Linked DNA regions of Homo sapiens. The protein of the gene in region 1 interacts with the protein of each later gene in a pairwise test. Each region holds a gene or a part of one and is shown on either strand. Other genes may lie near its edges.

Region 1 (16,299 bases):
GGGAAATAAATGAAAGAATGAACTAAAGGAAATGCATGGAATTTAAAACAAAACAGCACGCAAAAAAATAAGCACCTGAAAAGACATTCAATATCATAATTAAAATCACAATGCAATATCACTACCCACTTATTAGAACAGCTAAAGTAAACAATAATGGTAATGTCAAATAATGGCAAGGATGTAGAGAAACAGAGTCTCTCATACATTTCTAGTGTGAATGTAAAATGGCACAGCCACTCTGGAAAATAGTTTTTGCAGTCTTTACCATACAATTCAGCAATCACACCCTTGGCTATTTATTCCAGAGAAATGAAAAATTATGTTCACACAAAAACCTATGGATGAATATTCATAGCAGTTTTATTCATGCTAGAAAAATACTGGAAACAACCCAGATATCCTTCAATGGGTGAGTGGTTGAATAAACTCTAGTGCATCCATGCAATAGGATACTGCTCAGCAATAAAAAGGAATCAATTACTGATACATGCAACAACCTGGCTATGTCTCAAGGGTATTATGCTTAGTAAAAAAAAGCCAATCTGAAAAGATTACAACTGTATGGTTCCATTTATACAACAGTGAAAACTAAGGAAGTCTGTAGTCTAGCACCAACATACCAGTGTCAATTCCTGGTTTTGATATTGTACTACATTACAGGTCACCATTTGACAAAGCGGATGAAGGGACACAGGACTCTTCGTACTATTTTTACAACTTCTTATGAGTCTATAATAACTTTTTTAAGTTTAAAGGAAAAAGAAGAATCTTTGACCCTGTCCAATTTGAATTAGCCACACACGTTTATGAATGCCACTCCCCTCGGGCAGGGCTGGAACTCCCCAACTCCTGTAGTTTAGTGTGAAGCACGGTCAGTGGAAAACACAAGTCCTACTTGGAAGTACATTTACAGAAAATACTCACAAAAGATAAGGGAAAGGAGCAACCAAACCATGCTTCTTAGACACTCTGGTTGATCTCTTGCTCCTTGGGCTTGCGATGATTTATGTGACGAGAACCACATCAACATAGAACTTCAGGCTCTTTTTCTAAAATAGGAAACTTTATATACGAATGGAAGATTTATGAGAACTAAACAGAGGAATTAAAGATGAGCTATTAGGGAAAACAGATGTATTGAAATTACCATTGGAAAAAGACTGAAAAGCTTAGTTTGTCTTGAATTCCGAACTCAATTCTTGCTAACAGTAACCAGGAAGTCAGAGTCTCTTACCAAGACAGTAGCTTTCCCTTTCCTTAAGCTGAAAGGAGTGGGGAGCCAACGTCCGGTTGGTGGGTTTGTTTCTTTTAGAGTCTGGGGGAGGGGAGTGTGGCAAAGGCTACTTGAAGGCAGAATAGAGTAGAGTAGACATCTTTCTCGACCTGCTAATAAAAGCCAAATTGATTCTGAACATAGGGTAGGTTTTTAAGCAATCAGCCATGTTTATATTATTGTTCTTGGTTGAAATTACACAGTTTAGTCAAGAGATTACAATTTTTAAAACTAAAACTGGAACTACAAAAGCCCATATTTTTGTAAAATTCTTTCATGAATTAGCAAGTGTTAGAAAGTCTTGTAATTCATTCAAAAAAGGACCTTGCACTCCAACTCTCTGAATGTAAGGGAGTGAAAAGAAAAAGATCCTTGTCTTGTCTGGAGCCCCAGGGAAAGCCACAGCCTCAACCCCACACTGCGCTTTGTCCTCAGGGCTGTGTTCCTGAGCTTGATTGCCAGTCATTTGCCAGCAAGAGGATGGATTGTTTTGTTAATGTTTCTTCTTCAAGACTCAGGGAGCTCAGGGTAGTCATAGGGACAAGCCAACAGACAGAACCAAATGGTGAGCAGTACCCACTGAGATCTGGGCCTATGGCATGGCTAGTCACAAACTGAACCTCTTCAACCATGTACTTCTGTGTCCTGGCCTGAGGGGTCAAGGGACACACATATGCTTCACTGGGCACAAGGATATGAAGTCAGAGTTTATGCAGCTTCATAAATCAGGCTGCAATCTAATTTCTAGATAAACGATTTTAAAATGTTAAAAGCATCTCCCATGTTGCTATTACTCAGATAGTCCCAAGAATCAGAATGTTAAATAAGATGTTACTTAAATGTTGATTAAAAATTAATTGGGTGTGGTGGCAAGTGCCTAACGTCCTAGGAGGCTGAGGCAGGAGGATCGTTTGAGCCCGGGAGGCCGAGGCTGCAGTGAGCTATGATCACACCACTGCACTCTAGCCTGGGCAACAGAGCAAAACTCTGTTTTTTAACAAAATGAACCAAAAAAAGTGTTTAAAATATTATTTTACATTCTTCCATTCAGTAGAATTTATAATCTACATTTTGCCAGGGGCTTTTTATAACCATTATTATTTTGAAAAAAAAAAATAACTTGTAAGCTTTTTTTTTTTTTTTTTTTTCCCAGACAGGTGTTGCGCTCTGTGGCCCAGCCTGGAGTACAGTGGCAAGATCTTGGCTAACAGCAACCTCCGCCTCCCAGGCTCAAGCCATCCAAACTATCCTCCCACTTCCGCCTCCAGAGTAGCTGGGACTACAGGTGCATGTCACCATGCCCCGCTAATTTTTGTATTTTTAGTAGAGACAGGGTTTTGCCATGTTGTCCAGGCTGGTCTTAAACTCCTGGGCTCAAGTGACCTGCCCACTTCCCAAAGTGCTGGGATTACAGGTGTGAGCCACTGGGCCCAGGAACTAAAGGAAATGCATGGAACATGCATTTATAAAGGAAAATAAAGGAAAAATGGCCCATTTTATCTTCTACTTATACTGTCTCACATATACCACCTCCCCCACCCGCCCCCAGCACACATACTTGCCACTGATTTTGAAAAAGAAATCGGCCGCTACTTTGAGCTTATTGCTTTTAAAATATCAGTTTAAAGCTCAAAACACTGTTTGAAAATTGTTACATCAGAAAGCCTATGCTGGGCTAAAAAAGCCTTTCTTAGGTTCATCTGCATCGTGGGAAGCCCCGTTCGGTATTAAGTTACCTGTGCATTGTAAGTGTCCCCACCAGTCAGTAAAGAACTAGGTGTTACTGCATAGTTCCAGGGTACAGCCTGGCGTTAGGCACATAGTAGCTGTTTAATCATCATTTCTTGAATTACGTAGATTAACTTGTCAGGACTCACATGTTCACATGGACAGGAATGTAGTTATTAACTACATTCAGGTTAGTCCACCCTTATTTTATATATTTGTTTCCAATTAAAAACAAACTATTATGTGAAGAACTCCAGACTCCCCAAGAATTCTGTTTTTGCTGGAGCCAAGAGGGTGGGAAACAATCATATGGCATCTAGTCTTCGAAGATGGCCTCAAAGAGCCATGCATCCCAGAATTCATGCCCTTGTGTAGTTCCTCCTGTACTAAACCCAGGTTGAGCCTGTGTGCAGTAAAGGATTAACTCAGCAAGATTGGGAAGTTCGAACCCTGCAAATTCCAAAGAAAGGACTGGCCCTTGACTAGATCTTGGGAGACAGTCTCCAAGCCCTTGGAATATAGTGCTTGATAAGAGTGCCTTTGTATGCCTAGGGCTTGAGCCATGACACATTGTTTATGCTAACAATGTGATTTATGATATTCACCTGGAGCTCTGGGCCTCCCTGTTTCAGTTTGACTTCTGGAGGGGCTGGAGCCTGAGTAACTAAGGTTAGTCATGTGAGTGCTCCATGCCTCATTAACAACCCTGGACTCCCAAGGCTGGGGTGAGCTTCCCTGGTTGGCAATATTTTGTACATGTTGTCACACATCATTGCTAGGAAAATTTTGTGCTGTCTATAAAATTCTACTGGTCGAGGACAGCTGGAAGCTTGCACCTTCGTCTCTCCTGGCCTCTGCCCTATGTGCCTTCTTCCTTTGCTGATTTTCATCTGTATCCTTTTGCTATAATAAACCATAACTATGAGTACAATAGCTTTTCTGAGATTTCTGAGTCCTTCTAGAGAATCATCAAACCTGAGGGTGTCTTGGTGACCCCAATACAGCCTGTGATTTGATTTGACCAGTAGAATGAGGCAGAAATGATATTGTGCCTGTTCTGGGCATCAGCCTTAAGAATGCCTGGAAACTTCTGCTCTTGCAATTTGGGGTGCTCTTAGTAAGTAGTAAGTAGAGACCATGGGGAGAGGAGAGGCCCAGTCATCCAGGTGTCCCAGCCAAATCTTTGTAAGACTCCAGTCCCAGCCATGATCTGACCACAACCACATGATAGACCCCAAATCAGAGAACTGCCCAGGTGAGCACATTCAACGCACAGAATTGTGAGCGGGAACAAAATGGTTGTTGTTTTAAACCACTAAATTTTGGGGTGGCTTATAATACAGCAGTGGATAACTAAAACCAGCATGAATAATCAAGTGATTTAAGAGATTCAGAATTTAATTGGTTAAGAGATTATACATAAGTAGCTGCTAGAAATCATTACTTTCAACAATGCAACCCAAAACAATTTTCCTAAATTGAAAGCAAAAACCGATTTTTTTTTAAGGAGACTGGAATTGAACAAAATTCTCTCAGGCTGCTGAAGTCTGTTGCTTCATTTATTTTAGACTCAGTCTTCTTTTCATCGCTGATTTGGAAATAGTGAAAGGCCACCCGTAAACAATACCTCACATAGGAATAGCCTTCAGGAGGTCTCAGAGCCTTCCATGTCTTTAAAAATTGTATCTTTAAAATTAGAATATGAGGTAATTGCTCTTATGCAAATTTCAGAGACAACATGAGCGAGCTCCCTGGCAGGCAGAAGCTGGACGTCCTGGTTTCCTAACTGCTCCCACAAATGCCCTCTGTACCCTGCTGGGTTCCATCTGGCCACACTCCAGTGCCTCTCCCAGAGGAAGGCATGCCAAATTCCTGACACGTGGCGTTTGAAAATACCATGGAACGTTTCCACTCGTGGATTTCACCATGTTCTCCAGTGAATATTTTAGCAAGCTAAAAATGTGACTCCTCGGTCATGAGAACACTAAGTCCATATGATTCGAAAAGAGCAATAATGCTGGAACTTTGATCCAATTATCAGCAAGTCCTCTTCCAGGAGATTAAATGTCTTATAGTATTTTATAATTTGCTTAGCAGGTATTTATCCTTTAGTGAAAACCAATGGTCTTAGAAGAGAGCAGCAAAAGATGCTGACAAATCATTTAAATGGCTAAGTGGTCATTCTTGCTGGCCTAATAAAAGTCCATTTCTAGGAAGACGAAACCTCAGCTTCTTATAAATCATCAATTATCCCAGATAATGGTAACAATATAGATATTTATACTCTGAGTTTTTATTTCCGCGTCTTGTGTTTCAACTTCACATCAGGTTGGTTTTTAAAAATTTATTTATTTACTTCGAGACAGAGTTTCTTTTTTTTTTTTTGAGACAAAGTCTCACTCTTGTTGCCCAGGCTGGAGTGCAGTGGTGTAATCTTGGCTCACTGCAACCTCTGCCTCCTGGGTTCAAGTGGTTCTCCTGCCTCAGCCTCCCAAGTAGCTGGGATTACAGGCATGTGGCACTGCACCCGGCTAATTTTGTATTTTTAGTAGAGATGGGGTTTCACCATGTTGGTCAGGCTGGTCTTGAACTCTGGACCTCAGGTGATCCGCCCACCTCAGTCTCCCGAAGTGTTGGGATTACAGGCATGAGCCACCGCACTCAGCCTGGCAGTTTTAAACGAATGAATTCATCTGTAAGCTTTTGAATGGAAAAACCAAAGTAGAAAGAAACATATTGTCTTACATTATTCTACAAATCAAAACTTTTAAAAATCAAATTGTCTTTCTTGTATTAAGAACAAACCGCAAGTGCCTGATCATCTACTTTATTTCCACGAGGCAGAAATACAGTTATGCAGCTGATGTCAGGGAAGGCGGAGAATTTCCTCAGCCATCCATGAAGAAAGATAAGGGGCCTTATCCACTGGCTGTCTAATCTTATAAAGATCTCATGCAAATTTGGTGGACATAGGGCACAATTCTCTATCCTTGAAGAACATTTTCCAAAGCACAGATGTTTTTCTCTTAATTGTGAATGCTGACTGACTTGTCCATATCCTTTCTCAGTGCTCAGCAGATGGTACGATTTGGGACTCGCTTGTTCCCTATAACGTGGGGCTGATGTTCTTTGCTACGTGGAAAACACATCTTTGGTGAGACAGAAATGAATCAATATTACACAAAAATGTTTCCATTTCTGGAATTTCCCTGAGATAAAAATATCTTTCTGGCTTTGGGTATACATAAGTGACCGTGCAGACACTTAGTAAAAGAGAAAACAGATTTTCAATACTTCGTGGTGATGGTGACTATACGGGATTATAAGTAGTTAAAGGTTTTCCTGTTGCATCATTTTGGAAACAAAAAGCTGACTCATTTTCTGGTTAATGCTTCAATATTTTCATTAGGGAGTTTCTATAAAGTTTTTATCTGAATCACAGAAAGTACAATTATTTCAGAGGTAGGATAAAATTTTTTCTGTCATAAACAGCACTGTGTACTAAAACCTGCTATGAGTTTAACAAATCACCTAGAAGCCTAATGCTCAAGAATGCAATATATCAAGTAAAACACTGAAAAGTTCAACTAGTTTAGATAATGCAAGTATGGAAATGCAAGATTGACTAAAACTTTTAAATATTATCACTCTTATTAACATGCTAATTTAATTCATTTTACTGGAGTATTTTAATTTCCTGGCAATTGAATAGCACTTTTTACTACAAATATTTCATCATTTGGATAAACATATTCTTTTATTTACCATTTGTCAGGTTTTGTATGCTAAATTGCAACTGCTTATATACACTCATCAAGTATCTCAAGGATAAATTAAAATTCTTAGTAAAAATCCAACTGACCGGTACAGACCACAAAAAGTACTATTTTAAGCCTTTGGGGGCTTAAAAATTGTGTGTGTGTGTGTGTGTGTGTGTGTATTCACATGGTGGGAGAAAAAGAACTTTCCAGATAATTGTGAATGGCATACTATTATATAAGAGTTTAAAACGCAATATTTCTGTACGATCAAAGTTCTTAACTCATGCTTTTTTTTTTTTTTTTTTTTTTTGAGACGGGGTTTCGTTCTTGTTGCCCAGGCTGCAGTGCAGTGGTACAATCTCAGCTCACTGCAACCTCTGCCTCCCAGGTTCCAGCGATTCTCCTGCCTTAGCCTCCCAAGTAGCTGGGATTACAGGTGCCTGCCACCACATCTGGCTAATCTTGTGTATTTTTAGTAGCAGTGGGGTTTCACCACGTTGGCCAGGCTGGTCTCGAACTCCTCACCTCAAGTGATCCTCCCACCTCCGCCTCCCAAAGTTCTGGGCTTACAAGCATAAGCCACCGCACCCACCCCATGCTTTACTCTTAAACTAATTTTGAGTTGTATATGAAAGGCCTAATAATCAGAAAAAGGCTATTTCTTAACTTAACTTGCTCAAATATTTTGAGCCTCCAAATCTGGAAAATAATGTTGAAGTTTGAAACTGATGCCGTGCCTACTCTAGGGAGCACAGTACTGAACTGCTGCTTCCTTGCTTCTCTTGGTGAATGCACATTGAGTGCCTTGTCATGCTCTGAACCCACCACTGCTAGGGACAGCTGTGGGGGAGCAGCTCACTGCACCTCAGAAGTCAACGTTAAAAGTCATTGTGAGCACCTAGAAGTGAAGTTCCACGAGACAGAAAACTGAGCCACAAGATGCCCCCAAAGTAGGAGTCATGTTGAAAACTTTGAAAAATGTCTTTGTACAACATCTACACAGATCTTTAGAGAACAGGCCAGACCTGTGCTGACTTAGGTACTGCCTAAAATGTCACTATATGAGGAACCATTTCAGCAGCATACTGCCCACGCTTCTCTGAGCCAAAGATGTTCCTAGCACTGCCTTTAGCCATATCATCTTTAAGTGAAAATAAGATTTTATACATATTCCGGCTGGGACACCTCGAGCACATGTGACCTCAGGAAATTCCTTAACTTCTATTCCCCTAGTTTCCTTATCTATAAGATGGTGAAGATTGTGGCAGAATTAAATGAGTTAATGTGCCCGACACATAATACAAACTACTCTGCGTTAGTTGTCCATTAGTATTATCATCCACTTATCATATCCACTCATAATTTTTGCAGAGAAGCCACCAGCACAAAATAAAATCAATTACAACACAATTTTTTTCAAAACGTGAACAGATACTATTTTATAAAAAGGTTCATAGGATCCCCAAATTAGTATTAACTCGGCTCAGATTTATCTACCCTAAGCACGTGGGGATTCTTCCCAGCTCCCACGCTCCTTGCCACCCTAAATGCTCAAGGGGAGTCCTATTGTATTAGAAATGAACTTGCTAATCACGACTTTGGACCTGATCCAAGACATGCTTTTCAGGCACAGCACTGGTAAGGAGATGGGTCCCCTCCAGAAAATGCTGAGAAATGGTAGCAAACAGGATTCCCTCCTTCGGTCTACTCCTCACTGCCTTCCCTCTGTGGGAGATGAAGCATTGCTCCCCCAATCCCATGCACATTTGATTGCTAGCCTGCTGGCACAACCCTATGATCCAGTGTGTCCAGAGAGATCCAGATTTCTCCCTCCGTACGTTTTCTCTCTCTGGTTGGTCCTGTCTATAGCTACAGATGAGCAAGAAGCATCCATGGACTGCCCAGGGCTTTCGTTTCCCATACCTCTGCTGTTTGAGATCTGGAGAACAGAACACATCCAGTCAGTAGCTCACACCCCCCATCACATTCTCAGCCTTCACATGTGAGGAAAACAGCTGGTCAAGGAAGGCTGCTGAATTCCATTTATAAGCCACTTAGCAAGTTATGAAGCTAGAAGGGTCATTTCTGTAGTCACTGTGTTATTGTTACAGCATATACTGATCACCTACTGGCTCTAGGAAGTGAGAATGATACTTTCAGTTCAAATCTTAGTGTCAGGATTTAATATCAAACAGGAAGAAACTCTACACCTTTGCTGCTTGTCTTAGCCAAGCAAATGAGGGTGTCAGAGAAACTGACCACCCTCTCTAGGCTGAAATGGGTTAGAGCAGATCTCAACTTCTGGAATTTTTAGTTGTGGAACCTTTCCTGGTAAACTATTATTTTAATGTCAATATTCTGGGAGGCAGGCAAATTTAAGGCAAGAGAGTACACTAAATCATAGGCACAGTGGCTCACACCTGTAATCCCAACACTTTCGGAGGCCGAGGCAGGCAGATCATTTGAAGTCAGGAGTTCAAGACCAGCCTGGGCAACATGGTGAAACCCCATCTCGACTAAAAATACAAAAATTAGCTGGGTGTGGTGGTGCATGCCTGTAATCCCAGCTACTTGGGAGGCAGAGGCAGGAGAATCACTTGAACCTGGGAGGCAGAGGTTGCAGTGAGCCAAAATCATGCCACTGCATTCTAGCCTAAACAACAGAGCGAGACTCAAAAAAAAAAAAAAAAAAATCATAGACACAGTGACAATGGAAATGTTTATTGCTGGTGGTTGGGTCTGTCATTTCCTAGAGGACATAGCTGGCCAGCAGATTTTCATTTCTTTTTTACAAAATAAACAAATGCCTACTTTATTATTTATACACAGAAAATTATATAGAAACACCACACAAACTGCTTGAAATACAAATATTCTTTGGTTTACTTATCAAAGTAAAAAATAACAAAAATCTTATCAGTTAAATAAAAAAGTGACATTCTTTATCAAGCCTTCTTAAACACTGAAACGCACGCATTTTTATGCTCATGTTCTTTAGCAGTATTTCTCCCCTTTTGCCCCTCATTCCCCTAAATTGTTTCAATGAGTTCATCTGTAGAATGAAGATTGTTACCTTTCTTAATGCTACTTACTTTTTATTATCTCAATATCAAGACCAATCTAGACTTTTTTGTCTCTTACATGTGAAATGGATGTAAAAAATGGAAAATTCACCAGCACTTTTTAAGATAACATAAAAGAAGCCCTAAGCAAGCATTTCAAGGCAATGACACACCATTACATTTCTGAGAAATTTAAGTATCATTGGTACTTAAAAGGAGAACTCAATTCCAGAAGCATATTCTTATACTGGACATTATTCATAATAGCTAATATAGTTCATTTCCACAGTACTGATTTCAGATAAGCCATTTTTTTTTTCCTGAGGGTTGACTACCTCAGACTTAAATCCTGAATGTCGATGACTCAATCTTAACAAAACAGTCAGCTGTAGACATGAAAATTGAATTGTTTCAAAAGGAGCAATGATAGCAAGAGAAAGTTCTTGGCATTTTAAGAAAAGTACATATACATAGCAAGAAATGAAAGTAAATCAAAATACATAGCTTTGTACATGTTAGAAATATCCAATGTGCCACCAACACAACAACTGCCCTATTAAAAAGTCCTCAGGTCTGGAGACATCTGTATTTTTCTTTGTATAACTACATTTGCATTACCCAACCACATATCTCTCCCATGGTCTGTTACCCGTTAGGAAGCTTTTAACCAGAATTTTTGGCAATATGCTTTTCTTCAAATAAAACAAGCCTTCAAATAAATCATTATGTCTGACAACTGAATTGGGTAAAGTCTTTCTGAAATATGTGTAATCTTTAGAAAATTCTTCTTTTTTCCTTCATAAATCAGCAGTGCTCCATCTTCAAATAAATCATGATCAGTCACAATCTTAACTCATGTGCTCATATGTTCTCTTCATCCAACATTTTGTTGATACCATCACATAGTTTTTGTAAGTGGGGTTTAAAATTCCCAAAAGGATTATACAAGGCAGCCAAAAATTCACAATCTGAAAAATGATCAAACACATTATTAACCCGTCCATGTGACTTGGCAGTGAGGTGGCGCTGAATGATTTGGTGCAGCATCTCTCTGCATTCATTTAACAGCCTGGATAACACATTCCGGTCAAAGGTATAATCCACCTGATGGAAACTGACCACGGTCATAGCAAGCTGATGAACTTTCTTCTTAAATTTCTCCATCAATGCTAGCTCATCTTGATTAAACTGATTATTCCTATAAAGAATGGCCAGCTTGATGACTGTCTTGATGAGGTTCTTGATGATCTTCTCTGCCTCCTTCTTGTTTTGGGTGTACTCCCTGGTCACTCTGTAGAGCTCATCCAGCACCTCACTACTTGTGTCGTCTATTAAGGTGGTGGCGATGGATTTGGACACCATTTTACCCAAGATCTTCTTTTGTGCCTGAACGGCCAGGTTTTTGGAATTAAAGACATCTGTGGCCACTAAAAAAAAAAAAAGAGAGGAAAAGAATTAACAATTAGTAAATATCAGCAAGTGAAGCGAACTAAAAACAGGTATTTGGGAGCACTTTTTTTCCTCATTTTCCCACCATTTGTGGTTTGTCTTACATCTACCGACATTAGTCTCTGTTCAGAAAAGAATTTTTGGCTGGGTGGAGTGGCTCACACCTGTAATCCCAACACTTTGGGAGACTGAGGTGGGCAGACCACTTGAGATCAGGAGTTTGAGACCAGCCCGGCCTACATGGGCGTGGTGGTGGGCACCTATAATCCCAGCTACTCAGGAGGCTGAGGCAGAAGAATCGCTTGAACCCAGGAGGCGGAGGCTGCAGTGAGCTGAGATTGCTCCACTGCACTCCAGCCTGGGTGACACAGCGAGACTCTGTCTCAAAACAAAAAAAAAAATACAAAATCAACTCTATACCTGTCATCTGGGCAACAGCAACCACAAGCGATTTAAAAGAAATTCATTTAAATGGAAGAAGAACAAATGGCAAAGCCATAATATTGAGTAAAATGGCAGATTAAGCAAATCAAAAGGAAAGCCTTGTTTTATAATCCGGTTGCAAAAAGTCAAATTTCCCAAGACATTGGCCAGTGCCTACCAATTTGGCTGTCCTAAGTACCTTGAATTTCAGCCTCCAGAAGTCGAGTGTTGAAAAGAAGTGCTCCTTGGAGAGCTCATTGTCACTTGCTATTTCTGATGAATGGCCATTGTTCACTTTACATTTTTACACATTTTGGGGAAATAACCTTTTCATGAGCTAATGAAATGTGCTACATGAAAAATATACTTTGAAAAAGCTGTTGCTTAGAGTTTACTTTTGGAATTATAACTTCTGACAGATGTTTACAATATACATAATAATGGCTATACATATTAAATATTAAACAGACACTATATGTAATCTTCCCACCTTAGAGCTGGTCAAGTGAAAATGCTCAATAAATGTTTATTCTCCAAACCAAGTTTACTTTTCTTCTACCACAATTTTCCCCACTCCATGCATGTAGCAATCTTTTTTTTTTTTTTTTTTTGAGACGGAGTTTCACTCTTTTTGCCCAGGCTGGAGTGCAATGGCGTGATCTTGGCTCACTGCAACCTCCACCTCCCGGGTTCAAGTGATTCTCACAACTCAGTCTCCAGAGTAGCTGGGATTATAGGCACCCTCCACCATGCCCGGCTAATTGTGTATTTTCAGTAGAGACGGGGTTTCACCATGTTGGCCAGGCTGGTCTCGAACTCCTGGCCTCAGGTGATCTGCCCATCTCAGCCTCCCAAAGTGCTGGGATTACAGGCATGAGCCACCGCACCTGGCCCATTTCTCTCGCTTCTCCTAAGGCTTAAGAACTGCAGTTCTTTGGGTGTCTACTCAATCTCTGAGTCGAGTGGCAACTGTTCTCTCCATATATGCCAGTGTTTAAGCCTAGGCCTGGGTATCAGAAAGCAGTCATTTGGTAATGAAAGATAAAAAGTTTAAAAATACAGATACATACAAATGAGTCAAGGCATCAATGATTATATAAGATTATTTCTAGTTTGGATAGGCTAGCATCATTAGGAAGCAAAAAGGCAGCTGCTTCAAAATCCAGACTGGGAAGACATATAGGAAGAGTGACTCCCTTAATCCAGAACTGCCATGTTGGATTTAAAATTGGGGAAAGGCGGGGTGTGGTGGCTCACACTTGAAATCCCAGCACATTGGCAGGCCCAGGTAGGGAGAGGATCACTTGAGCCCAGGAGTTTGACACCAGCCTGGGCAACATAGCAAAACCCCATTGCAACAAAAAACTACAAAAAAAAAAAAAAAATTAGCCAGGTGTGGTGGCATGCACCTGTAGTCCCAGTTACTAGGGAGTTGGAGGTGGGAGAATAATCTGAGCCTGGGAAGTTGAGGCTGCAGTGAGCAGTGATTGCACTACTGCACTCCAGCCTGGGCAACAAAGTGAGACCCTGTCTCAGAAAAAATTAAAATTAAATAAAATTGAGGAAAAGAAGAACCAAATTAGATTTGAAATTTGGACCAAAGTAGTTCGTGGTATATAGTAGAGGCAGCTGCAAAATGGTTCCTTATGACCTGAACATCATTTATAAATATACAGTGCCATACATCCACTCAAAGAATGTCTTGATTGAATAAGAAAGGGTCCCCTCACAAATGTCGAAATTTAAACTTCTGAAACATGAACTGAAACTGCAGAAGAACTAAAATATATTTTGAAAAAGAGAAGGAAAGTGAAAATGTGTGAGAAACAGCCAACTTTATGGAGAAGTTTCCATCATTTAATGTTTTATGTTTTTATCATTTAAGCAGAAATCTGTTTCTATTCCTATTCTTCAATGATTTGCAAAAGAGTATAAAGATTAATTCACACTAAAGAATTTATGTCAAAAGAAATGGCATCCATGTAGCTAACAGTATCACATTAAAACCAGGGACCATATTTCATCTTAGAACTCCTGATATAGACCTCAAAAAAAATCAATAAACTTGATTTATATAGGGATACCCAACCATTTTCAGCTACTCAGCAGATAACCAGGATTTCAGTAATATATTACATATAAAGTTGAAATGTTATTGTGTTTTTTTTTAATGTTTTAGAACATGGCACAGTCTACAAATATCTTACCTGGGATTTACTACAAGTCTATCAGTTGGACATACTTTATGTTGTGAAATATTGAAACCAGAGGGAGAGGTATTCATAAGATTTCTCCTTTATCCAAGACTGGACTTTCATGTTTACACCTCTTCTCAGCTACTTTTCTGATTAAATCTCAATATCCCATTTAACTTCAAACATGGAAAACAAAAACTCTATGATACAGCACTTCAACTTCCTGCAAGAGAGTGTGTAACAGGCAAATCTACTGCCAACTAAGCAAGATCATTCCCCATTTACTGGTAATCAAGTATGAATCAAGATAGAGAAGTTGATCTCTGAGGCTTTCATATTTATCCTAGAGGAACTTCAAACCCCGCTCCAGAAACACAGCAGCTGTGTCACACTTTCCTTTTATTCTTTGGGTTATTCCAGTGAAGTCGTCTTTTTAAATGAGGTTGAAGCTCCTTGTTCCCCTCCACCATCTGAAGCTCTTTCTCCCCCTCCACCAAGAAGACATGCATGAGTAGATTTATTTTCCAGCATTAGAGAAAGTTTTTTTGAAGCCAACTGGGGCTTGTGGCTGAGAGTCGCTGGCCAGGGATGTGTGGTCTGTGCTCATGAAGTTTGTTTCTTTTTCTTGCAAATTAACTGCTGTTAGCCATTCCTGTGCAGGCTCATTTGTCAGTTCCACATGCTCTACCAGATCCCTTAAAAGTCTGGTGTATCTCAGAGCTAGTCCTGGATCAAGTTTTTCTCCTTCAGTCTATCCTCACCCCTGTGTGATCTCATCCACTGCCACAGCTTCAGATACCACCCATGTGCCAATGACTCCCATAGCCATAACTCAGCCCTGACCTCTTTTCTGGACTCATTTTGTAAGTGCATTCAAGATTTTTCTTTCCTTGACTATTTTGCAGGCATCTCAAATTTACCATATGCAAAACTGATCTTTGATTCTCTCCTGCCTCCCTACTAAGTGCTCCTCTTTCACTCTTTATGATCTCAATTAATAGCATCCCTTCCAACCTTTTGCTCAATCAAATCAGAGACCTGGGGATCATCCACCATACCATTCTCTCCCTCACCCAGTCCATTATTAAGTTCTTTCCATTCCACCTTCCTCCTGCATTTCTCTGAATTCTATCCATTTCCCTCCATCTCCACGGACAGCAGCCTAGTCCAAACCCCTTTCTATCTCTTTTCACATATCAGCCAGAGTTTCAAGAAATGAAATTTGCAAATGGGGCCGGGCGCAGTGGCTCACACCTGTAATCCCAGCACTTTAGGAGGATAAGGTGGGAGGATCACTTGAGCCCAGGACTTTGAGACCAGCCTGGGCAACATAGCAAGACCCTGTCTCTACAAAAAAAACTCAAAAAAAAAAAAAAATAGCTGGGCATGTAGTCCTATTTGCTCAGGGGGCTGAGGTGGGAGGACTGCCCGAGCCCAGGAGTTCAAGGCTACAGAGCTGCAGTGAGCTATAATCATGCCACTGTACTCCAGCCTGGGCGACACAGCAAGGCCCTGTCTCAGAAAAGAAAAGAAAAGAAAAGAAAAAAAAAGATGCTTCATGTAAGTTCTTTGCTAACTATCACACCTCCTTGTTCCTTAAATCCTCTTCATTTGCCTACATTTTTATTGTCTGCCTCTCCCTACTAGGATTTAAACTCTGAGAGCAAAGATTCTGTGTATCATGTTCACTGTGTCAACTTGCAGGCCTAGAGAGTGGCTGGTCCAGAAGCAGCAATCAATTTCCCCTATCTCATCCACAATATACTCAAATACTTTTCTATGAAAACATGTTGGCCTGTAAAACGAGAGTTGTAAATACATTAGTGGGTGTTTTTGTTTGTTGTATTAAAAGGTAGAAAAACAGGTATTTGTTTTACCTCACTAAACATGTGGTTTTTCTTCCCTCTAAGTGCGCTCCAGAGTATGATTTCTCTTACTGTCATCAACCAGTTCTTTTAAAGAGGAGAGATTTGTTGTGCATAATGGGAAAACATCCAAGGACAATAATGCAAATATTTAGAGTAAAAGCAAGGTGTAGTTCTGACTTGAACTGTAGCAGGAGATTAAACACAGGCCCACCTCTACTTCTGGCTGGATCTATGTTTAGACATGTGCCAGAGGGATACCTAAGGCATGTCCTGGGAAGCAACTAAGATGTAAACAGGAGATGTTCCCCAAGGAGAAAGTGCTGAAAATATTCATTCAGTTTTTTGCCTCTTAAGATCAATTCACTTGTGTTTGGAAACAGACATGTAAATTGTTCATTAATGAAGAATAATGCTGTATTTAAAAAAAAATACAAAGCATTACCACCACATTAAAACTGTTTAAGATTATTTTCTAGAAATAGGGTGTAAATGTTATTTTACATTACTTATCTTACCTCCCTCCCTCTCTGTCTCTGT
Region 2 (17,129 bases), on another chromosome or scaffold:
GTGAAGGAGAGGTTGAGAGCCTCATGGTGTGGAAGGCATAAGGGTTAGAGGCGAGGTTGGAGGGATGTGGGTGCTGGTGTCTGAGGACTTATTGGATTTCGGGCTGTGTGTCCCTCAGCGTCTAGATTCCTGCTTCGTAGGTGATGAGACGCTGCATGTAGCATGTTCACCTCAGAGACTGTCACTTATGAGGGTGCCCATCATTATTATTTTTGGTGACAAGGTAGCTGCTATTTTCCTGTAAGCAGAAGCTGCGGAAGAAAATGGTGGGATTGGCCGGGAGCGGTGGCTCACGCCTGTAATCCCAGCATTTTGGAAGGTCGAGGTGGGCGGATCACCTGAGGTCCGGAGTTCGAGACCAGCCTCAACATGGAGAAACCCCCGTCTCTACTAAAAATACAAAATTAGCCGGGCGTGGTGGTGTATGCCTGTAATCCCAGCTACTCGGGAGGCTGCGGTAGGAGAATTGCTTGAACCTGGGAGGCGGAGGTTGCGGTGAGCCGAGATCGCGCCATTGCACTCCAGCCTGGGCAACAAGAGCGAAACTCCGTCTCCAAAAAACAAAACAAAACAAAAATGGTGGGATTAAGACCCGCCCCCGTCCCGTCCCCGCCCCTTTTCGCTCCTGCTCCGCCCCTTCCCCGCCTTCTACCTGCCTCCCTCGGTGCTGTCGGTCTGCGCGGGCGCGCAAGGGGGACTGGGACGTTCAGGCGGAAGTGGCGTCAGGGGCGCTTTAGGGACTGGACTTGCAGTGTAAACAGAGACGCTGCAAATTGCTTGTGGACGGTGTAGGCCGCTGCAGGCCACCATGAACCGGCTTCCGGATGACTACGACCCCTACGCGGTTGAAGAGCCTAGCGACGAGGAGCCGGCTTTGAGCAGGTGGGCTCCCGCCCCACCCTGGCCCCCGAGGATTTGGGTCGAGGCCTGGCTTTGGTCGCCTCCATTCGTTGCGCCTGCCGAGCCTACGCAGACCCTAGCGGCTCGGGAGCCTGTCGTGCCTGTTACTTGTGCGAAGCCAAAGGGCTTTCCTGATGGGGTCGCGCAGTCCCGGGGGGAGGCGGTGCCGATGTCGCCTGTAGGAAGAGGGATATTCCGGAATCACGGGGGACCGCGTGTAAATCTTCAAAAGCAATGAGATCGAAACCTGTCTCTACACCTTAGTAGCAGAGTGACGGAAGGCAAGTCAGTTATCCTCGATTACTCACCTGTAAAATTGAACTATAATAACATAATTGTATAACCTATATAACATAGTATAACACACTATGTTTGTTGTGAGGCTCACAGGACTTAATGTGAAGTGTCCATCTTGAAGACTAAACTGCCATAAACAGAAATAAGGGAATATTGAACAGCCTTTTTTATTTTTATTTTTTGACAGGGACTGTTGTATGCTCGCTCTGAGCTACAGAGATAAATCATAAGGTCCTTGTCTTCCAGAGGCTTATAGTATAATAAGGGTAATAAGATAAAGTATATATTTCTTGGCAGAGCATTGTAGAGAATATTGACCTGAGATAGGCACAGAAGAAGGTTCGTGGGATTTCCAGAAGGGTGGGCTTTATTCTACCAGGGAAACTTGAAGCTGTTTTGCCGAGATATTTCCACACAAATTTAGTTATTTCTTAAGCTGTCAGCAGATCCTATTCTTAAACTTTAAAACATTCATTCTGCCTAAAGAAGCTTTCTGTAAAGCCATGCTTTCATTAACAACTTTGGCTGGGTGTGGTGGCCCATGCCTGTAATCCCAGGACTTTGGGAGTCTGAGGCGAGAGAATCTCTTAAGCCTGGTAGTAAAGGAACAGCCTGGGCAACATAGTGAGACCTCATTTCTTAAAAAAAAAAAAAATCAAAAGAACAATGTTTCCTCATATTGTCATGGGGAGACATTGGATGCATGGGAAATCAGACTGCTGTTAAGATTTCTTTTGTTGGGAGTGAGGATAGATACCAGGATTCCCTGTGAAAAAGAGTTTCAGTTAATGGGTCCTGTCTGTGAAAGGAGGTATGTATATATGTATGTCTCAATTATTTATTTATTTATTTATTTATTTTGAGACAGAGTCTCACTCTGTCAGCCAGGCTGGAGTGCACTGGTGCAATCTTGGCTCACTGTAGCCTCCACCTCCTGGGTTCCAGCAATTCTCCTGCCTCAGCCTCCTGGGTAGCTGGGATTACAGGCATGCGCTACCACACCTGGCTTATTTTTTGTATTTTTCGTAGAGATGGGTTTTCACCACGTTGGCCAGGCTGGTCTTGAACTCCTGACCTTAGGCAATCTGCCTGCGTCGGGCTCCCAAAGTGCTAGGATTACAGGCCTGAGCCACGGAGCCAGGACTGTTGTATCATTTTTTTAAGGAAGCTTTATAATTCTGTGACAGTTGCCACTGGTAAGGTAACTGTAAAGATAAATATTATAAAAACAAAACAATGTTATCAGACAGTATTGCCTGTTGTAGGCTCTGAGCCAAATGGTTATTATTTTAAAAAGGGAGATTAGTGTTAGAGAGGTGTCTGTCAGTATTTAATTTTACACTGTTTATAAACTAATACATTGTAGCCTGTTAACTGTTTCACGGTAGCTGACCGAAGACATGAGACTCCTGGGTCAAAGATAAGACTACACATAGCACAGCAAGCAGCATGAGCATCATGTTTGTGTGGCTTGCTCTTGCTTGTCAACCCTACAGGTATTACGCTGAGGGTCCTAGAAGAATGCTGCACATTCAGTGGGTTGGCATCGTGGCTAAAGACTACTTGAGCTTGGAGAATCCACCTCTTTCATAGAAGACAGTAAATACATCTGCTCTTTGTCCTGGAAGGAGACATTATCTCATTCCTCAAGGTTGTTGTTCGCTGCAAACACAATCCTGAGAAATGGCTGGAGTGAACAGTGGTCAGAACCTTGCATTCTTGGCATACTTAACTTGCATATCTAGGGTCCATGATGTATGACTGCCTTTCTCAGCAGTGCTGAAAACTGAGACTTTGGTTGAGATAATGACAAGGATTGAAGAAAATTTGTAGAAAAAATAGCTCTCACTTTGTGATTCAGTTTTTAAAAATTAAACATTTTATTTTGAAGTTTTCGTAGATTCACATTCAGTTATAAGAAATAATACAGGTCTGGTGCAGTGGCTCACATCTGTAATCCCAGCACTTTGGAAGGCCAAGGCAGGAGAATCACTTGAGCTCAAGAGTTCAAGACCAGCCTGAGCAACATGATGAAATCATGTCTTTACTGAAAATACAAAAAATTAGCTGGTATGGTGGTGCATATCTGTGGTCCCAGCTACTCAGGAGGGTGAGGCGGTTGGTTGGCTTGAGCCTGGGAGGCGGAAGTTTCAGTGAGCCAAGATGGCACCATTGCACTCCAGCCTGGGCAACACAGGGAGACCCCCATCTCAAAAAATAAAAAATAATAAAAAAAAAAGAAATAATACAGAGAGATCCTGTGTACTCTTTCCCCAGTTTCCTCCAGTGTTAACATACTACAAAACTATAGTGCAGTATCACAACCAGGATATCTATCTATCTATATATCTATCTATGTATTTTTTGAGACGGATTCTGAATCCTGTAATCCCAGCTACTTGGGAGACTGAGGCAGGAGAATCGCTTGAGCCCAGGAGGTGGAGGTTGCGGTGAGCAGAAATCATGCCACTGTACTACAGCCTGGGCGACAAGAGCGAGACTCTGTTTCAAAAGAAACAAACAAACAAACAAACAAAAAAACCATCCTGGGCAACATGGCGAAACCCCATTTCGACAAAAATTAAACAAAACAAAACAAAACAAAAAAACAGCTGGGAATGGTGGTATGTGCCTGTAGTTCCAGCTACTGGGGAACCCGAGGTGGGAGGATTGCTTGAACTGGGGAGGTGGAGGTTGCAGTGAGCTGAGATCATGCCACTGCACTCCAGGTTGGGTCACAGACTGAGATGCCATCTCAAAAAAAAAAAAAAAAAAAAAAAATTAAAGAAGATTGGAAATATGCAGAACTGGCTTATTAAGTGAGAATAGCTATATGTAATGTATAAGTACATCAAATGTAACCATGTAATACTTAAAATTGTTGTTGGACAGTGAGATGCTGGGAGTTTAAAATTATTTTAATTTTTAAATATTCATATTCTTTTTGATTTAAATGTATGCTAGCTCTGAGGATGAAGTGGATGTGCTTTTACATGGAACTCCTGACCAAAAACGAAAACTCATCAGAGAATGTCTTACCGGAGAAAGTGAATCATCTAGTGAAGATGAATTTGAAAAGGAGATGGAAGCTGAATTAAATTCTACCATGAAAACAATGGAGGACAAGTTATCCTCTCTGGGAACTGGTAAACTTTTGGTTCAATTTTATATATATTTTTGTAAGCTCTGTAAGGGCAGGAACCTTATTTGTGCTCTTCTATGTTCCCAGCACTTTCAGTAGGTGCTCAATAAATATTTATTGAATGAAGGAGTGAATGTATTTGGCAGTCTGAGCTAGAGTCTTCCTTTTCTCATTTAAAAAAGTTATTTATTTATTACTTTAGATTCAATGTCTCATTCTGTTACCCAGGCTGGAGTGCAGTGGCATGATCATAGCTCACTGTAGCCTAAAACTCCTGGGCTCAAATGATCTTCCCACCTCCGTTTCTTGAATAACTGAGATTACAGGCATGTACCACTGTGCCCAGATAATTAAAAAAAAAATTTGGGCCGGGCACGGTGGCTCACGACTGTAATCCTAGCACTTTGGGAGGCCGAGGCGGGCGGATCACGAGGTCAGGAGATTGAGACCATCCTGGCTAACACGGTGAAACCCTGTGTCTACTAAAAATACAAAAAATTAGCCGGGCGTGGTGGCAGGCGCCTGTAGTCCCAGCTACTCGGGAGGCTGAGGCAGGAGAATGGCATGAACCCAGGAGACGGAGCTTGCAGTGAGCTGAGATCACGCCACTGCACTCCAGCCTGAGCGACAGAGCGAGACTCCATCTAAAAAAAAAAAAAATCTGTAGCGACCGGGTGCAGTGGCTCACACCTGTAATCCTAGCACTTTGGGAGGCCGAGGTGGGTGGATCACCTGAGGTCAGGAGTTCGAGACCAGTCTGGCCACCATGGCGAAACCCCGTCTCTACTAAAAATACAAAAATTAGTTGGGTGTGGTGGCACGTGCCTGCAGTCCCAGCTACTTGGGAGGCCGAGGCAGGAGAATTGCTTGAACCCGGAAGGCGGAGGTTGCAGTGAGCTGAGATCGCGGCACTGCACCCCAGCCAGGGCAACAGAGTGAGACTCCGTCTCAAAAAAAAAAAAGGCCAGGCGTGGTGGCTCATGCTTGTAATCCCAGCACTTTGGGAGGCCGAGGCAGTGGATCACGAGGTCAGGAGTTTGAGACCAGCCTGGCCAATACAGTGAAACCCCATCTCTACTAAAAATACAAAAATTAGCTGGGCTTGGTGGCACGTGCCTGCAGTCCGAGCTACTCAGGAGGCCAGGCAGGAGAATCGCTTAAACCCGGGAGGCAGAGGTTGCAGTGAGCCGAGATTGTGCCATTGCACTCCAGCCTGGGTGACAGAGCTAGACTCCGTCTCAAAAAAAAAAAAAAAAATTTGTGGAGACAGGGTCTCACTATGTTGCCCAGGCTGGTCTTAAACTCCTGGCTCAAGTGATCTTCCTGCATTGGCCTCCCAAAGTGCTGGGATTATAGGTATAAACTATTGTGCCTGGCTTGGAGTTTGTTTGATGACTGTCTTGTGTTCTTGGAAAGAGATTAGTTAATACTGTTTACTTGCATAATTTTATTTTGCAGTTTTTACTCGAGTTAAAAAAAAAAGACACACAAACTTACAAAAGTATTTTTAGGGTTAGATGGCACTAAAATGTGGCAGATTTAATTATGTATCATCACAAATTTCTGTTTCACTTTAGTGAGTAATGAAACATAGTTCATTTTGATACTTGGTCTTTATGTAAAATGTACCTGACCTGAAAACTGGTTTGTGAAAGTAGGACTCTTCTGCCGGGTGCAGTGGCTCACGCCTGTAATCCCAGCACTTTGGGAGGCTGAGGTGGGTGGATCATGAGGTCAGGAGCTCAAGACCAGCCTGGCCAACATGGTGAAACCCTGTCTCTACTAAAAACACAAAAAATTAGCTGGGAGTGACGGCAGTTGCCTATAATTCCAGCTACTCGGGAAGGTCAGGCAGGGGAATCACCTGAACCCAGGTGGCAGAGGTTGCAGTGAGCCGAGATTGTGCTATTGCACTCCAGCCTGGGCAACAGAGTGAGACTCAGTCTCAAAAAAAAAAAAAAAGGAAGTAGGACTCTTCAGCATTGATTTCCACCCTGATATGCTATGTATTAGCTGGAAAAATCTGAAAGCATATAAAAATATAATAAAAACTAAAGCAGATGCTAACTAAGAGGAATTAGGGATATGGGCATATGATGACATAAGTATAGGTAATGTCATGGTCCTGGGCACAACTGAGGAGAAGAATGTGTCCTTGACTCATTCCTCCTGCCTTCCTATAGGGTTCTTACCCTTTTTCTCCTAATGTTTCTTAGAACAAAATGTTTGTTCTATGTTCTGCATGGTATACTGTATGACTGAAAGGTAGAGATATGTGTGCTGGCAACCTGAAAATATCGCTATTTTATTTAATGAGATTTGTGGGAAGGGAGAGAGAAGAATTTTCTCAAGATTTGGAACATTTTAAGGAGGGCCAGTTCTCTGTAACTGTATAGGGCATAGACATCGAGTAATTCACTGATGTGAAAATATTTCACCATCAAATGAGTTTGTGAATGAGTTGATATTGTTTTGAGGTGATGGAAGAATATATGGAGTTTTTTGCCTTGTGAATTATGTATGATTTAGTCTGTAAACTTTACTTCTGGTTTGAATAGGATCTTCCTCAGGAAATGGAAAAGTTGCAACAGCTCCGACAAGGTACTACGATGATATATATTTTGATTCTGATTCCGAGGATGAAGACAGAGCAGGTAAGTAACCTATTTACCAGGTTTAGCAGTTATATTTTATAAAAAAGGTTTACCTAACAATTATTAGATGTTAGGATTTCCCTCTGAGTTTGGTCTTTTAAGAAATTACAGCTAGGCATGGTGGCTCACACCTGTAATGGCAGCACTTTGGGAGGCTGATGCAGGCAGATCACCTGAGGTTGGGAGTTTAAGACCAGCCTGACCAACTTGGTGAAACCCCATCTGTACTAAAAATACAAAAATAAGCCGGGCATGGTGGTGCACGCCTGTAGTCCCAGCTACTTGGGAGGCTGAGGCAAGAGAATCAGTTGAACCCAGGAGGCGGAGGTTGCAGTGAGCTGAGATTGCACCATTGCACTCCAGCCTGGGCGACAGAGTGAGACTGTCTCAAATAAATAAATAAATAAATAAAGTGGATGCCATTGATGTGAAAACAAAAGCAGGATTGATTAATAAGAAAAACTGGGGGCTGGGCATGGTGGCTCACGCTTGTAATCCCAGCACTTTGGGAGGCAGAGGTGGGCAGATTGCCTGAGGTCAGGAGTTCTAGACCAGTCTTGCCAACATGGTGAAACCCCATGTCTATTAAAAATACAAAAAAATTAGCCAGGCTTGGTGCCATGCACCTGTAATCCCGGCTACTCAGGAGGATGAGACAGGGAAGTTGCTTGAACCAGGGAGGTAGAGGTTGCAGTGAGCTGAGATCGCATCATTGCACTCCAGCCTGGGCAACAGAGTGAGACTCCGTCTCAAAAAAAAAAAAAAAAAAGCTGGGGACACAGGCATGTGAGGACATGGCACCAACAGTGGTGCTGCTTGGATGTACCTAGGGAGTGAGAGAGAGTGTGTCCCAACTCAATACCTCCCCTCCTCAGGGCTTTTCCCCCCTCTTCCTTTAGGTTTCCTATAGTAGCAATATTTGTTTTCATGCCTGAAAATAGTTTCTATGTTTTAATCCTCCTGCAGAATTTTTTTTTTTTTGAGATGGAGTTTCGCTCTTGTTGCCCAAGCTGGAGTGCGATGGCACCACCATCTTGGTTCACTGCAACCTGTGCCTCCCGGGTTCAAGCAATTTTCCTGCCTCAGCCTCTTGAGTAGCTGGGTTTACAGACGCCTGTCGCCATGCCTGGCTAATTTTTTGTTTTTTTAGGAGAAACGGGGTTTCACCATGTTAGCCAGGCTGGTCTTGAACTCCTGACCTCAGGTGATCCACCCGCCTCAGCCTCCCAAAGTGCCGGGATTACTGGTGTGAGCCACCGCGGCCTGGCCTCCTCCTGCAGAATTTTTCTTAATGCGTTGATTTTTAATCAGCCTCTATGTTCAAAATTGAATTTTTCTTTCTTTCTTTCTTTCTTTTTTTTTTTTTTTGAGACGGAGTCTCGCTCTGTCACCCAGGCTGGAGTGCAGTGGCGCAATCTCAGCTCACTGCAAGCTCTGCCTCCTGGGTTCACGCCATCCTCCTGCCTCAGCCTCCCGAGTAGCTGGGACTACAGGCGCCCGCCACCACACCCGGCTAATTTTTTGTATTTTTAGTAGAGAAGGGGTTTCACTGTGTTAGCCAGGATGGTCTTGATCTCCTGACCTTGTGATCCACCCACCTCGGCCTCCCAAAGTGTTGGGATTACAGGCGTGAGCTACTGTGCCCGGCCTGAAAATTGAATTTTTATAAAATTTGAGCAAAGTTGAACATAACAAGAGCTAAAACTAATTATTTCAGTAATTACAATGAAATATTCAAATAGCAAATTTCTGTGGTAAAGAACAATATTATACTTTTATGCATTGTTACTTAAATATTGACCTGTTAGAATGTATGTGTTTGTTTATTTATTTATTTATTTTGAGACAAAGTCTCGCTCTATCGCCCAGGCTGGAGTGCAGTGGCGTCATCTCAGCTCACTGCAAGCTCTGCCTCCTGGGTTCACACCATTCTCCTGCCTCAGCCTGCTGAGTAGCTGGGACTACAGGTGCCCGTCACCACGCCCGGCTAAATTTTTGCATTCTTAGTAGAGATGGGGTTTCACTGTGTTAGCCAGGATGGTCTCGATCTCCTGACCTCGTGATCCGCCCGCCTCAGGCTTCCAAAATGCTGGGATTACAGGCATGAGCCACCGCGCCCAGCCTTGTTTATTTATTTTTTAGGCAGAGTCCCACTCTGTCACCCAGGCTGGAGTGCGGTGACACAGTCTTGGCTCACTGTAGCCTCTGCCTCCTGGGTTCAAGCGATTCTGGTGCCTCAGCCTTCCTGGTAGTTGGGACTACAGGCACAAGCTACCATACCCGGTTACTTTTTGTATTTTTAGAAGAGACAGGATTTCGCCATGTTGGTCATGCTGGTTTGAAACTCCTGATCTCAGGTTGTCTGCCCACTTTGGCCTCCCAAAGTTCTGGGATTACAGGCATGAGCCACCACTCCCTGCCTGCTAGAATACATTCAAAAAGTCTAGTGTATGTAGATGGCCATAGTTTTTTTTTTTCTCTTTTTTTTTGTTTTTTTCCTCTTCCTTTCTTTCTTTCTTTTTTTTTTTTTTTTTTTTTTGGTAAAGATTGGGTCTTGCTTTGTTGCTTAGGCTGGTGTCAAATTCCTGGCTTCAAGCAATCCTCCCAAAGTGCTGGTATTACAGATGTGAGCCACTGTATCTGACCTCATACTGTTTTTTTTAATTCACTTTTGAAATATTTTTGTTCTAATTTTAGTAGCATTTTATATATATATTCATACATCATAAATAATTTCTATTCTTGGCTTGTTTTGAGTGGCTCTTTTGAGTCTCTGAATTCTCATTGTTTGAACTTAGTCCTTGAGATACCAGTTTTGGGTAAATAAACAATTTTTGCCTCCTCTGTCATTTTAATGCCTTATTAGTTGGAGAAGAACTTTATTTTTTAAATTTTTGTTAAATTTTTTACTTTTTTAGAGATAGGTCTCACTCTTACCCAGTCTCCAGCAGTGCAGTGGTGCAATTATAGCTCACTACATCCTCAGACTCCTAGGCTCAAGCCATCCTCCCAGCTCAGCTTCCCTAGTAGCTAGGACTACAGGTGTGCCTGGCTAATTTTTAATTTTTATTTTTGTAGAGATGGGGTCTCATTATGCTGGCCAGGCTGGTCTTGAACTCCTGGCCTCAAGCGATCCTCTTGTCTCAGCCCCTCAAAGCTCTAGGATTATAGGTTGTGAGCTACCGCACCCTACCTGGACAAGCACTTGTTTAGATGAAGGGTTTTTTTTAACTTTTTTTTTTTGAGACGGAGTTTTGCTCTTGTTGCCCAGGCTGGAGTGCAATGGCGTGATCTCGGCTCACCACACCCTCCACCGCCTGGGTTCAAGTGATTCTCCTGCCTCAGCCTCCCAGGTAGCTGGGATTGTAGGTGCCTGCCACCACGCCTGGCTAATTTTGTATTTTATTTTATTATTTTCTTTTTCTTTGAAACGGAGTCTCGCTCTCATCACCCAGGCTGGAGTGCAGTGGCACGATTTCGGCTCACTGCAACCTCTGCCTCCTGGGTTCAAGCAGTTTTTCTGCCTCAGGCCCCCAAGTAGCTGGGATTACAGGTGCCTACTACCATGCCCAGCTAATTTTTATATTTTTAGTAGAGAGGCGGTTTCACCATGTTGGCCAGGCTGGTCTCGAACTCCTGACCTCAGGTGATCTGCCCACCTTGGTCTCCCAAAGTGCTGGGATTACAGGCGTGAGCCACCGCACCTGGCCCTAATTTTGTATTTTTAGTAGAGACGGGGTTTCGCCATGTTGTCCAGGCTGGTCTCGATCTCCTGACGTCAGGTGATCCACCCACCTTGGCCTCCCAAAGTGCTAGGATTACAGGTGTGAGCCACTGCGCCCGTCCCTTTTTTAACTTTTTAGGGAAAATATAAATAAATGTGTAGCTTGGGAAATGAGACTCTTCATTTAAAGAAGTGTGAACTTGACACATGATTCTTAGCCATATCCTAATATTTTCAAAATTAGTACAGGTGACCAAGAAAAAAAAGAAGAAACAACACAAGATTCCAACAAATGACGAATTACTGTATGATCCTGAAAAAGATAACAGAGATCAGGCCTGGGTTGATGCACAGAGAAGGGGGTAAGAACTTAAAGTTAATATTTAGAATCTTTAGAAAAAAAGATTGAAAGATGATTTTTACTACATTCACATTTTGAATATATGTGTATATGTTTACACAAACACACACACACAAACAAAAAAGTTAGAGGAAAAAACTGCTCAGTAGTTTATTTTGAAAATAACCAGCAAATTTTAGTGAGACTTTTTTTTAAAATTTTTTAAATTTTTATTATTATTTTTGAGACAGAGTCTTGCACTGTCGCCTGGGCTGGAGTGCAGTGGCGCGATCTTGGCTCACTGCAACCTCCGCCTCCTGCGTTCAAGAGATTCTCCTGCCTCAGCTTCCCGAGTAGTTGGGATTACAGGCGCCTGCCACCACACACAGCTAATTTTTTGTATTTTTAGTAGAGACCGGGTTTCACCATGTTGGCCAGGCTGGTCTCGAACCCCTGACCTCGTGATTCACCTGTCTCGGCCTCCCAAAGTGCTGGGATTACAGGCTTGAGCCACTGCATCCAGCCCGACAATTGTTTTTTTGTTTTTTTTTAAACTTGTTGAATTTAGGCTGCGTTAGTCAATCTCTCCCTCAAGAAAAACTGACTTTTTTTTTCAGATGCTGTTTTAAATTACTTTGAGATTAAGAGTTTATGTGGATGGGCCAGGGTGGTGGCTTATACCTGTAATCCCAGCAACTTTGGGAGGCCGAGGCAGGTGGATCACCTGAGGTCGGGAGTTTGAGACCAGCCTGGCGAACATAGTGAAACTCTGTCTCTACTAATACAAAAATTAGTGGGGCCATAGTGGCGCACACCTGTAATTCCAGCTACTCAGGAGGCTGAGGCGGGAGAATTGCCCAAACCTGGGAGGTGGAGGTTGCAGTGAGCTGAGATCACGCCACTCCACTCCAGCCTGGACGACAGAATGAGACCCTATCTCAAAAAAAAAAAAAAAAAAAAAAAAGGGTTTTGTGGATGAAGAGTGGATTTAGCAAATTGTTCTTTTTAACTACTTACAAATTTGATTTTTAAAAATTGAGATGAGGCTGGGCATGATGGCTCACACCTGTAATCCCAGCACTTTGGGAGGCCAAGGCGGGCGGATCACTTGAAGTCAGGAGTTCAAGACCAGCCTGGCCAACATGGCGAAACCCCATCTCTACTAAAAATACAAAAATTACCTTGGCATGGTGGTGTGTGCCTGTAATCACAGCTACTCTGGAGGCACAAGAATCGCTTGATCCCAGGAGGTGGAGGTTGCAGTGAGCTGATATTGTACCACTGTACTCCAGCCTGGTCGACTGAATGAGACTGTCTCAAAAAAAAAAAAAAAATTGAGATGAGGCTACTCTAGGTACACTGCTTATGGAGTAGCCCTGCTCTGCAAGGAGCAGTTAAAAATTTTTTTTGAGATAAAATTCACATAACAAAAGTACCCACTTTAAAAGTGAACAATTTAGTGGCATTTAATACCATTCACAATGTTGCACAGCCACCACTTTTATGTAGTTTCAACCATTTTCATCATCCCAAAAGGAAACGCTGTACTGTTAGGTAGTTTCCCTACCCTTCCCCTCAGCCCCTTGGCAGCCACTGATCTGTGCACTGTCTCTGTGGATTTGCTTATTTTAGATATTTCTTATGAATGGGATATTATACAGTATGTGACCTTTTATATCTGGCTTCTTTCACTGGGCATAGTGCTTTTGAAGTTCATCTACATTTTAGCACATGTCAGTACTTCTCTACTTTTTATGACTGAATAGTATCCCATTGTATGTGTATACCACAATTTGTTTATCCTTTCATCCACTGAGGGATGGATGTTTGTGTTGTTTCCACACCCTCTGCCCCCACCTTTTTTTAAGAGATGCCTGGGCTGGAGTGCAGTGGTGCAGTTATAGCTCACAGTATCCTCAAACTTCTGGGCTCAAGCACTCCTCCTGGTTCAGCTTCCTGAGTAGCTGTGACTGTAGGCACACACCGCCTCCCGGGTTCAAGCACTCCTCCCACCTCAGCCTTCTGAGTAGCTGGGACTATAGGCACACACCACCTGGCTAATTAAAAAAATTTTTTTAATAGAGAGGTCTAGCTGTGTTGCCCAAGGTGATCTTGAACTCCTGGCCCCAGGTGATCCTCCTGTCTTCACCTCCTGTGCTGGCATTACAGGTGTGAGCCATTGTGCCAGGCCATTTTTTTTTTTTTTTTTTTGAGACGGAGTTTTGCTCTTGTTGCCCAGGCTGGAGTGCAAATGTGATCTTGGCTCACCGCAACCTCCTCCTCCCAGGTTCAAGCGATTCTTCTGTCTCAGCCTCCTGAGTAGCTGGGATTACAGGCATGTGCCACTGCACCTGGCTAATTTTGTATTTTTAGTAGAGATGGGGTTTCTCCATGTTGGTCAGGCTGGTCTCGAACTCCTGACCTCAGATGATCCACCTGCCTCGGCCTCCCAAAGTGTTGGGGTTACAGGCATGAGCCACCGCACCCGGTCATTTTTTTTTTAATTTAAAGACAGGGTCTTGCTGTGTTGCCCAGACTGTAGTGCACTGATGCTATCATACCTCAATGTAGCCCTGAACTCCTGGGCTCAAATGATCCCCCTGCCTCAGCCTCCTGAGTCCATGCTTGTTTTTTTTGTTTCTAATTTAATTTTTAATAGACACAAGGTCTTGCTATGTTGCCCAGGCTGATCTTAAACTCCTGGGCTCAAGCAATCCCCTCCTACCTTGGCCTCCTTAAGTGCTGGGATTAAAGGTGTGAGCCACCATGCCCGGTTTATGCTTGTTTATTTTTATTTTCATTTTTTTTTTTATTTTCTTATAGAGACAGGGTTTCACCATGTTGCCCAGGCTGGTCTCAAACTCCTAGGCTCAAGTGATCTGCCCACCTTGGCCTGGGATTACAGGTGTAATTCCAGCCTGGCTCTATGCTTGTTTTTGTTTTTGTTTTTTTGGGACAGAGTCTCGCTCTGTTGCCCAGGCTGGAGTGCAGTATCGCAATTTCGGCTCACTGTGACCTCCACCTCCTGGGTTCAAGCAGTTCTCTGCCTCAGCCTCCCAAGTAGCTGAGATTATAGGTACCCGCCACCATGCCTAGCTAATTTTTGTATTTTTAGTAGAGACGGGGTTTCACCATGTTAGCCAGGCTGGTCTTGAACTCCTGACCTTGTGATCCACCCACCTCAGCCTCCCAAAGTGCTGGGATTACAGGCGTGAGCCACCATGCCCAGCCTGTGTGCTTGTTTTTTAATGTAGCTTTACTGTTTTTAAAAAATTCATGGACTTTTATTTTTGGTACACTTGTCACAATTAATGGACTAATATTGATACATTATTATTTTTTTTATTTTTTATTTTTTTGGAGACAGAGTCTCGCTCTGTCGCCCAGGCTGGAGTGCAGTGGCGTGATCTCGGCTCACTGCAAGCTCCGTCTCCTGGGTTCAACCGATTCTCCTGCCTCAACCTCCTGAGTAGCTGGGACTACAGGCATGTGCCACCACGCCCAGCTAATTTTTGTATTTTTTTAGTAGAGATGGGGTTTCACCATGTTGGCCAGGATGGTCTTGATCTCTTGACTTCGTGATCCGCCCGCCTCGGCCTCCCAAAGTGCTGGGATTACAGGCGTGAGCCACCGAGCCCGGCCTTGATACATTATTATTAATCAAAGTCCATAATTTTAAAACATTTCCTTAGTTTTTATGTACTGTTCTTTTTCTGTTTGAGGACCCCGTGTAGGATAGTACATCACTTTTAGTTGTCATGTCTCCCTGGGCTCTTCTTGACTCTGTCAGTTTCTTAGACTTTCCTTGTTTTCAGTGCCCTTAATTACTTTGAGGAGCACTAATCAGGTCTATGTAGGAGGCCCCTCTGTTGGAATTTGTCTGTTGTTTTTTCTCATAATTAGGATGGGATTATGGATTTTTATAAGTAAGAACATAGAAGTAGAGAGCCATTTTCCTCACATTATATCAAGAGTACATACTACCAACCTGAGTTTTGTGTGTTGGTATTGACCTCGATCACCTTGCTGACCAGTGTTAACTTTCTCTACTGTAAAGTTAGTCTTTTACCCCGCCTTACCATACCGTACTCTTTGGAAGGAAGTCACTGTGTCCAACCCAGACTTAAGGACTAGGGAGTTATACTCCACCACTGTGAGGGAAGAGCATCTTTATAGATTATTTAGAATTCTGTGTGGGGATTTGTCTGTTCTCCTCCATTTATTTATTTATTCAGTACATTTATATTAGCGTGGATTCGTGGGTATTTATACTTTGGGTTGTAATCCAGTCCTACTTTATTTTGTTGCTCAGTTTCAGCTTTGGCAGTTGGTGACTTGTTCAGTTGGCTCCTGTTTCCCTTTGTCATAACCACCTCACTGTTTTGTTTTTGTTTTCTTGATTACTTCCTTCTTTTCTGGCACTAAAAGATGCTCCAGGTTCATCTTGTGTTCCTTATTCCTAGAATTAGCCATTTCTCTGAATAGTACTGGTTCTTTTTATTGGAAAATGACACTAGAAACCAAGATCTGGTTTTAATATGTTTTTCTCCCCACTTTCTTCTTCTGTTCTAGTTACCATGGTTTGGGACCACAGAGATCACGTCAACAACAGCCTGTTCCAAATAGTGATGCTGTCTTGAATTGTCCTGCCTGCATGACCACACTTTGCCTTGATTGCCAAAGGTAATGGATGAAGGACACACACACACACACACACACACATACATATTTTGTTTAAATTAGAAACAGACTTTTTTTTTTTTGAAGTCAGAGTCTTACTCTGTTGCCCAGGCTGGAGTGCAGTGGCACAATCTCGCCTCACTGCAACCTCCGCCCCGTGGGTTCAAGCGAGTCTCCTGCCTCAGCCTCCCAGGTAGCTGGGATTACAAGCGGCCACCACCATGCCTGGCTAGTTTTTGTGTGTATCTAGATCTAGATCTAGATCTAGATAGATAGATAGATAGATAGATATAGTTTTGTTTTGTTTTGTTGAGATGAAGTCTCACTCTGTCGTACAAGCTGGAGTATAGTGGTGCAATCTTGGCTCGCTGCAACCTCTGCTGCCCAGGTTCAAGTGATTCTTCTGCCTCAGCCTCCAAGTGGCTGGGATTACAGGTGCCTGCCACCACACCCGGCTAATTTTTGTAGTTTTAGTACAGACAGGGTTTCACCATCTTGGCCAGGCTGATCTTGAACTCCTGACCTTGTGATCCACTTGCGTTGGCCTCCCAAAGTGCTGGGATTACAGCTGTGAGCTACCACGCCCGGCCTTATTTTTATATTTTTAGTAGAGACAGGGTCACACCATGTTGGCCAGGTTGGTCTTGAACTCCTGACCTCAAGTGATCTGCCCACCTCGGCCTCCCAAAGTGCTGGGATTACATGCGTGAGCCACTGTGCCCAGCCCAGAAACAGACTTTTGAGGTACTCAGGAATTCTGATAAAGTTCTGTACTTAGATTCTTGGTGCTGTGTGACTAATCTTTATACAATTAATTTTGATTATATATAGTTATATTAAATGTAGCTTTTATACTTTTAAAGTTGGGCACAGTGACTCATGCCTGTAATCCCAGTGCTATGGGAGGCTAAGGCGATCACTTGAGCCTAGGAGTTTGAGACCAGCCTAGGCAACATAGTGATACCTCATCTCTACAAAAAATAAAAAAATAAAAAATTAGCTGAGTATAGTGATGTATGCGTGTAGACCCAGCTACTCGATAGGCTGAGGTGAGAGGATGGCTTGAGCTCAAGAATTCAAGACTGCAGTGGGCTGTGACCACCACTGCACTCCAGCCTGGGCAACAAAACAAAGGTGAGATCCCCATCTCTCTCTCCAAAAAAAAAAAAAAAACGGGCTGGGCGTGGTGGCTCACGCCTGTAATCCCAGCACTTTGGGAGACCGAGGTGGGCGGATCACGAGGTCAGGAGATCGAGACCACGGTGAAACCCTGTCTCTATTAAAAATACAAAAAATTAGCCGGGCATGGTGGCGGGCGCCTGTAGTCCCAGCTACTCCGGAGGCTGAGGCAGGAGAATGGCGTGAACCCAGGAGGCGGAGCTTACAGTGAGC

The links.
Region 2: the proteins of TNFAIP8 (region 1) and EAPP interact in binary tests that used the Homo sapiens proteins (3 or more experiments, as listed by UniProt).

Annotation. Positions count from the first base shown.
Region 1 is NC_000005.10:119,387,771-119,404,069, reverse strand, and holds the end of TNFAIP8 (tumor necrosis factor alpha-induced protein 8), read right to left. Parts: coding exon of another isoform or gene 16,278-16,299; intron 13,068-16,277; exon of another isoform or gene 11,899-13,067; intron 11,255-11,898; coding exon 10,689-11,254; 3' UTR 4,382-10,688; downstream 1-4,381. UniProt on the Homo sapiens protein: Acts as a negative mediator of apoptosis and may play a role in tumor progression.
Region 2 is NC_000014.9:34,523,308-34,540,436, reverse strand, and holds the start of EAPP (E2F-associated phosphoprotein), read left to right. Parts: upstream 1-735; 5' UTR 736-808; coding exon 809-882; intron 883-4,161; coding exon 4,162-4,343; intron 4,344-6,897; coding exon 6,898-6,993; intron 6,994-10,961; coding exon 10,962-11,079; intron 11,080-15,629; coding exon 15,630-15,740; intron 15,741-17,129. UniProt on the Homo sapiens protein: May play an important role in the fine-tuning of both major E2F1 activities, the regulation of the cell-cycle and the induction of apoptosis. Promotes S-phase entry, and inhibits p14(ARP) expression.